Homo sapiens: one gene and its partner. The protein of the gene in region 2 purifies or fractionates together with the protein of the main gene of each other region. This does not show direct contact. Each region holds a gene or a part of one and is shown on either strand. Other genes may lie near its edges. The genes, in order: LMF1 and DCT.

What was found.
Region 1: the proteins of DCT (region 2) and LMF1 purify together in Homo sapiens (affinity purification with mass spectrometry; one large-scale study listed by BioGRID and IntAct). This does not show direct contact.

What each region holds. Positions count from the first base shown.
Region 1 is NC_000016.10:968,118-972,611, forward strand, and holds the start of LMF1 (lipase maturation factor 1), read right to left. Parts: upstream 2,868-4,494; 5' UTR 2,864-2,867; coding exon 2,671-2,863; intron 1-2,670. UniProt on the Homo sapiens protein: Involved in the maturation of specific proteins in the endoplasmic reticulum. Required for maturation and transport of active lipoprotein lipase (LPL) through the secretory pathway. Each LMF1 molecule chaperones 50 or more molecules of LPL.
Region 2 is NC_000013.11:94,455,580-94,459,388, reverse strand, and holds part of DCT (L-dopachrome tautomerase isoform 1 precursor), read left to right. Parts: intron 1-3,809. UniProt on the Homo sapiens protein: Plays a role in melanin biosynthesis. Catalyzes the conversion of L-dopachrome into 5,6-dihydroxyindole-2-carboxylic acid (DHICA).

The DNA of each region.
Region 1 (4,494 bases), on a different chromosome or scaffold from region 2:
GGTGGCAGCACATGGAAACGCCCAGGCCCGCGGTGGGAAGGAGCCAGCCCCAGGACGGATGCAAAGTCAGGTTGAATGCAGAGGCCTGTCGCTGGCAGCCGGCCTCTCCAGGTCTGGCTTCGAAGCTTCCCCGACAGGGCAGGCGTTTCTGTGTTCTCCTGATCTGTACATCTTTACTACATGTCTGCTGAGACAATCTGCCTAAGGGTAAGCCTCCCTCAGTTCAATGTCTTTTAACAAGGGGAGTTTCCACAGAATACATTTGGTTATGTGTTTAATTACAAGTGTTTCAATAGCTATAAACATTGTAAAATTCAGTATCAAGTGAAATATTTGGAGAGCCCCTATGGCAACTTGGAAAAACCCTGGGATTCTGAGGAACAGGGAGTAGCGCACAGTCCCAGTAAAATCCAGAACTTTCTAGAAGGAGATAAATGCAGGATGACTGCCTGCTTGCCCTGGGCCAGCTCAGCCAGAAAACCATGTCCCTGAAAGATGGGAAACTGGTTCCTTGATACAGCAGAAAAACACTGATTCTACCCCAAATGTACTCACAAGACAGAAGAACGTGCATATGTCAAGGAGAAATGTTCAATGCTGGGCACCAGGCTTAAAATATCCGCTTGACCCAGTGGCTTAAAAGCAGTTCCTTCTGAATTGAACAGAGAATCCCTGCGGAGATCAAAGGAGCCTCAGCTCGTTTGAAAGAGTCTGAGCTGGTTTTATGAAGCTGTGCTCCGGAGGCAAGGCCGCTGGGACTTCCTGCTGTATCTCGGGCTCCCCTGTGGAAGGCCTATTAGAGCCTCACAGCTTCACTTTATCTCTACTTCATCGTTTGCTAAGTGACAGCACCAACATTTAAAATGACTGTTTAATACTGTGGAGGGAAAAGCAACCTGGGAAGAACTACTTTTTAAAATAATTGCAGGCCGGGCATAGTGGCTCACGCTTGTAATCCCAGCACTTTGGGAGGCCCTGAGGTCAGAAGTTCGAGACCAGCCTGGCCAACATGGTGAAACCCTGTCTCTACTAAAAATATTTTTAAAAATTAGTCAGGCATGGTGGTGCGTGCCTATAATCCCAGCTACTCGGAAGGCTGAGGCAGGAGAATCGCTTGAACCCAGGAGACGGAGGTTGCAGTGGGCCGACATGGTGCCGTTGCGCTCCAGCCTGGGCAACAGAGTGAGACTCCGTCTCGAAAAAAATAAATAAATAAAATAAAATAGTTGCTTTAAAGAAAGAGAGAGAGAGACACAGACCCAGTTGAAGCCGATACTGCAATCCCACAGGAAACCTTGTAGTGATGAGCGCGTCTCATCACTTTGCACCAGGAGGTGGAAAGTATCACACAAATGTCACACAAAACGTCGAACTGAGCATCACTCCAGCACAACCAGGCTACCAAACTTCCCGCGACGTGTGTGGCACAAAGGCTGTGCAAAGAAGAACTTCTGCAACCTGACCCTTTCCTTCCACACGTGAGGGAAGCAGACGATGGAAGGAAAGGGAGACGTCCAATGCCCACGGCCTACAACCAACGCGTGGGCAACGCCCGGGGCCAGCAGCTCCGGAGCCCTCTGGGACGGTGACTGCCCACGCGCCCCGCTGGCTGCATCTCGGCCTGGCAGGCTCCCCTCACTTCCATACTCATTTGAGAGCCTCACTTGAGGTTCGTAGCTCCTGACACGTTGGGCTTATGAAACATGTATCCGTGTGATCACATGTCACCGTGATCACAGAACCGTTCTCTTCCAAACCAGTTCTGGGTTGTAGGGACTGGGGAGAGAGGGAGTTGGAATCGCCAGCTGCCCCTGGCCAGGGGATCCAGAGGTTTTGAGCGTGAACTGACTTTTCTCAGAGCTCTGCTCTGTAGGCTGCGCACGCGGGCCCCGCACAGCTGTGGGGTGAAGGGTCTCCGCCAGTGGACCCGGCCAACCACATCCCACAGTGAGGCGCAGGCTTCACTTGCAGATGAGGTTCCGGAGCTGCCCCCAGACCTCCGCTGGGAATCTTCCCGAACGCAGACTGAGCTAGTCGAGAACACTAAAGGAGAAACTCCAGTCTGGCCACCAGCCAGTCACCTTCCCTCAGCCCCTGGGAGACGCGAAGGAGGCTCCCGGGCCGGCTCCTCGGATTTTGGCAGGGGCCGCACGCGGCAGGGATGTGGCGTGCGGGCGTCCAGTTACAGTGGGAACCTTCACCGTCAGCACAGCGCTGTGTCGGGGACAGCAGGAGCGCCTCGCCTCTCCAGGCCGCCCCCCGCCCCGCAGCCAGGACGCAGACCCCCGACCTGCGCACGGACGGGTGACCCTCCACCTGCCCAGCTCTCCTGGGAACTCCTGGGCCAGGGCCCGGGCCGGCCCCGCCTCGCATAGCCCCGAGCCGGTCCTGGCAGGCGCGGCCGTGCAACTTCGGGGCTGCGGGTGGAACCGGGAGCCCAGGAGCCCAGGCCGGAGGCTCGAGGCGGCGACAGGGGTAGGGCCGGGTGCGCTGTCGCCAGCAAGCCTTGTCCTGCCCTGCCCGCCCCGCCTTGCCCGGGCCCCAGCAGGAAGGAGGGCTGCGTGGGGGCGCCGCGGCCGCGAGACCGCGCGGAGGAGTCTCGAGGGAGGGCGGGGGTCGTGGTGCGCGGAGGTGACACTGGCGGATGTCCCGGGCCCGCCCGGCACTCACAGTACACGAAGGCTAGGGCCTTCAGGAGCACGATCCGGGTCAGCCAGAAGGTGCCCGTGTGGAGATGGGCCGGAGAGCCTGCGGGGCCACGCCCCGGCGCGGGCGGCGACTCAGGCTCCGGATCCGAGTACCCAGTCTTCCGCCTCCTCAGCGACTCCGCGGGCGCCGCCATTGTTGGGCTGTCAGGGCGCATGTGCGGGGAGGGCGCACTCCCGGAGGCCCCGCCCATTCTCGGAGGCCCCGCCCATTCTCGGAGGCCCCGCCTCTCCCTGGCCGGCCCTGCCCACGGCCGAAGGCCCCACCCACACCCCGGGAGGCCCCGCTCACAGTCCCGGAGGCACCGCCCCCTCCAGCCGGCCCCGCCCACGCGCGGGAGCGGGTGCCCGGAGCCTGCCTCCTTCGCAGTTCTCGCTGGGCGCTGCTGCGGGTAGGGCGCGGGGCCGGGTACCTGGGAGGTGGTGCGCGTCGCCCGACCCGAGCTCACTGGGGCAGGCACGCGTGCCTTCCGTCAGTCCGAGTTGCAGAGGCCAGGTGCCCTCCCCCAGCCAGGCGCCTTCCCAGCTGTGGTCCTGGGGAAGGTGGGCTGCACAGGCCCTGGCGGTGCTACCACTGCGTGCCCCTGCCTCACAGCTGACACTCACTCTCTGCGGAGGAGGGTGCTAGGGCGATCGTCGCAGCCAGCAAGGGACAGAGTAGGCAGGGCTGTGCCTGGAATGCTCGGGGGACCCTCCCCTTTCTCCCAGCCTGAGCACCCTTCCGCCTTTGCACAACCCAGCTCCTGCCTGCCCTTGGGACTGGACTTCAAGCTGTGGGGGAAGAGGGGGACTCAGGACTCAGGAGGGAAGGGCTAACTGCCCAATGCCCCAAACAGAACATGAAGGAGGACGCCAGCACTCTACACTCTGATGACTGGAGCGGGGTTCTGGAGGCTGATGTGAAGCGGGTGCTAGGAAGGGCTGGGGTCACAGGCATTCCTTAGAGGAAAGAAAGGGCGTGAGGCTAGAGTAGGCATTGGAGACCTAGGGGTTAGTGAATAAACTGTGGGGCACTTAGGTGGAAGTGCAGATTTCTCCTTATTCATTTGTCAGCACTCTTTACGTATGAAAAATCCTGTTCTTTTGTGTATATTGGAAATATTTGTCCTGGTTTTTTGTTTTTGTTTTCATGTATTCTTCTCTTTTGCCTCTCTAGCTTTCCTAGTGTTTTGGCGTATCAATTATCGCCACTGGGTTGGTCAAATGACCCGTCTTTATTGCTTGTTTAATTACCTGTTTAATTATATCTTCACCACCTGCAGTGTGAGCCTTGTGTGGGCAGGGACTGACTGTGGACATCGGGCCCCCAAATCCAGGCCTGACCAGCAGTGGCCCGAGCTTCCTCTCAGCCTCCACCTTCCCTGTGTTGCTGGGGCCGTAGCATACGTGTACATCTTATGGTTTAATTCATTTTTAGTTTCCATTTCTTTTCTATGAAACCCCCCTTAGGAGCCCAGCTGTGAAATGGGACCCTGTTAAAGATGTTGCAACGGGTACGAACACACAAACATCCTCCGCATGCTGGCCCAGCCTCCGGGAGCGTGGTGTGTGCCTGAGGGCTCGGAGCCTTGGGGATCGCAGGAGGCATCGGCCCTGGCTGGCGCCCGGCACCCAAGTCCCTCCACAGAGCCCACGACCCGTACCTCTCCTCGTGACCTGGGGGCCAGCTTAGGAAGGGCCGGCACAGCCCACACTGTTCCCCTCATCTGTGGGGAACAGGGAGCCCCACACCCTGGGACCACGCCTGCAGAGCGGGCCCTGTCTGGGTGCCAGGCCTGCTAGGGGACGG
Region 2 (3,809 bases):
CCTTCACCGATGGCATTAATACAAAAACTCACATTTGAGGCAATTTAATTTGTTAATCTGATTCATACCTCTGACATGTAATAATACAGACAGTAAATAGGATTGCTGTTGACTGTGCAGGAGCCTCACAGTTATTTAAATTTCAGTGTGATGAACTCCTTTGGTATATCAGTTTGATTTCTGTCTCACTTTAAAACAAAAGAAGAAAACTGCCAGGCATGGTGGCTCATGACTGTAATCTCAGCACTTTGGGAGGCTGAGGTGGGAGGATCACTTGTGCCTAGGAGTTCAAGACCAGCCTGGGCAACATTATGAGACCTTTTCTCTACCAAAAACCTTTACAAATTAGCTGGGCATGGTAGCATGCACCTGTGGTTCCAGCTACTTGGGAGGCTGTGGTGGGAGGATCACTTGAGCCTGGGAGGTCGAGGCTGCAGTGAGCCATGATCGTGCCACTGCATCCCAGCCTGTGCAACAGGGTGAGACCCTGTTTCAAAAACAAAAACAAACTGAACAAAACTTGACAATAGGATTCTAAATTTTACAATTCTGAGCTTTTTTAGTGTTTGTTTATTTGTTTGTTTTTGGAGACAGAGTCTTGCTCCACTGCCCAGGCTGGAGTGCAGTGGTGCTATCTGGGCTCACTGCAACCTCTGCCTCCTGGGTTCAAGTGATTCTTCTGCCTCAGCCTCCCAAGTAGCTGGGACTACAGTTGCACGCCACCACGCCCGGTTAATTTTTATATTTTTACTAGAGACAAGGTTTCACCATATTGGCCAGACTGGTCTCAAACACCTGACCTCCTGATCTGCCCACCTCAGCCTCCCAAAGTCCTGGGATTACAGGCGTGAACCACTGGGCCCAGTCTTTAGTTTTTAAAGTATATTCATCCCCTGGTGAACTTTTCTAAGACAAACAAAATGGGGAAATACGAGTCAGGGCTACACTGTTCAGCTACCCTAGTCAATGCTCTTCAGTCTGTGACCTCTAGGAACACAATGTAGTTGAATACATTGGTCTGTTACTCCTTGCAGGCAGAGAATGGAGGACTGTGGAAAGTCTCAGCCAGTGGGTGTTGGAAAAGACAGAAAGGGTTTGGGCTTGTGCTAGGTGATTTGGGGAGGACTTTTGGAAGCTTTGCTCTGAATCAGATGTTGTCAGGAAGCAGGGGTATGCTTCCTGATTCTATGAGTGGGTATCTTGATAGAGTGATTATGTCTGTATATGGGGCAGACTAGACTGAGGTTAAAGCCATAATTGGTAAAACAGCAGCAGATGCTCATATTAGCCGGGAAAGGGGGTGTCACGCATCTTGCATCTTGGACAATGTTCATAATTTGTCTGTGCTCAGACACGGTTATGGGGTTTTCTTGTTTTTGTCCTGATCCGTCATGGTCACAGAGTGGCCTTGTCTGCTGTCGATGTTCTACGAAATCGTTTATGTCTGATAGGGGGACATCAAGTCCTCGTTGATAGCGCCAGGCCAGCTCTTGAATGTCAGGGGCTGCTTTTCTAAGTACAGGTCACTCAAGTTGTCATAAGAGATTTAGACAACATACACATTCATGTCTCAGCAGCCAATCCCCAAAAGTGCTCCTGCTTTACAGATACGCAACTCACCCTCGTCTATTTTAACCCTGTCTGTGTGTCTTCTGAGTTGTATGTCTTGAATAGATAGTTTTGGAGCAATTACAAGAAGAAATTTCACCTCTTCTCCTTTTTTATTTTGCCAGTATTTTGAGTTTATATTGTTATCCAGTTAGATTGTGTGATATCCAAAGACTCTCTGTTTTTCTCCAGAATTTTCCTCACCTTAATGTTAATCTTAGCAATGTGTCTTAGTCTGCTCAGGCTGCCATAATGAAAGACCACAGATTGGATGGCTTAAACAACAGAAATTTATATCCCACAGTTCTAGAGGCCAGGAGGTCTAAGACCAAGGTGCCAGCTGATTTGGTTCCTGGTGAAGACTCTCTTCCTGAGCCTTCTAGCTGCATCCTCATATAGTGGAGGGAGAGAGAGAATAAACTCTCTGATGCCTCCTTTTATGATAACACTAATCCAGGGCCCTATGGTTCTGACCTCATTAAACCTTAATTACCTCTTTCTAGGCTCTATCTCCAAGTATAGTCACATTGTGGGTTAGGGCTTCAACACACAGATTTTGGGGAAACACAGTTCAGTCCAGATATAGCATTTATAATGCATTGTCAAACCATCAGTTTATAGAAGTTTGTTTTTCTTTTCTTTTTTCTTTTTGAGACGGAGTCTCTCTCTGTCATCCAGGCTGAAATGCAGTGGTGCAATTTTGACCCACTGCAACCTCCGCCTCCTGCGTTCAAGTGATTCTCCTGCCTCAGCCTCCCGAGTAGCTGGGATTACAGGCACGTGCCACTGCGCCTGGCTAATGTTTGTATTTTGAGTAGAGACAAGGTTTTGCCATGTTGGCCAGGCTGGTCTTGAACTCATGACCTCAAGTGATCCTCGGGCCTCGGCCTCTCAAAGTGCTGAGATTATAGGCGTGAGCCAATGCACCCAGCCAGAAGTTTGTTTTTCTGGACTTTTTGGAGGCTTCATGACTGATTACAAGTCAATCAGTTTTACTTGATACAGACCAGGGCAATCTTGGGAATGTAATTGAACCACATGGAGCTTCTGCTTCCCACTCTGCAAAGTGTGGGTCTCTTGACCTGATCTGGTGGTGAAAATGTTGTTCTCAGTGAAGTGACTCTTAGTAGATTAGGACAATAGGAAACTGGTCTAGAGCCCGTCAAGTACAATACAAATGTTATCATAACAATAATAATGTGTTTTATAATGGTCAGAATTAGAGAACCATATGTTAGGTTTAGATTTTCAAACCTTAATTAATATTTCTTATCTTGTTCTCCAAAGCAGACAGTAATGCCCTAAGACATTTTACTAATAAGCACAAAGTCAGAAGTATTTCACAGGTGATTTATTATTGTTACTCAACCCAGGGTACAAAAAAAGGAGCTATGAAGAGGGAGAGTAAAGGTATAGCTTTCAATGATTCTAAGCTTGCCTGATGGGTGTGAAGTAGCTTTCTGGGGCTCCTAGATAGATTAAAGCATAGTCAGGTGAGCTTCAAGAAATCCTGAGACGGAATTAGTTGGTAGAGTTGTTCTTTCCTTCTAAAAAATGTTTCTTTCCTCATATTTGCATAGTAGCAATAAATGAAGGGGTTGTCAGAAGTCTGAATTAATGGTCCCAGCCTCTAACAAGGTGGGGGCTTATCTGTGACGCCGCCACAGCGATCTTTGCTTTTCTCTAGAATGCCTGCTTTGTTCAATGATTTTAACTTGATAGTTCACATCATTTTTTCTGGCTATCGTCTCAGCCATAGCTTATGCCAAGCATTTCTGGTGTCTGCTTTCTCAGCCATGTATCTGTACATCTATTTATACTATACGTCTCTAAGTATTTATTAAAGCATACATTGTCAACTGTACAATTTATACACACAATTCATATTCATAAGGAAAAATGTCATAATACTCCTTATCCAGTACTCCAATATGTTATAAGTAGAACAGTGGAATCCTCTGATAAATTAAGGATTATACCCCAACTCTTTCTCTCCTATTAAAAATGATGCTAGTAATTTGATTTTCTGCATCCCAAGTCTCCAGGATTGCTAAACCGTATCTCCTTCTTTTGAACAAGCCTGCTAAGTGGACAGAAATTGGCAACATTTTTCTGTAAATAGCCAGGTAGCAAATATTCTGGGCTTTGGAGGCCAGATGTTTTCTGTTGTAACTACTGAACTCTGCCCCTGTATCATGAAA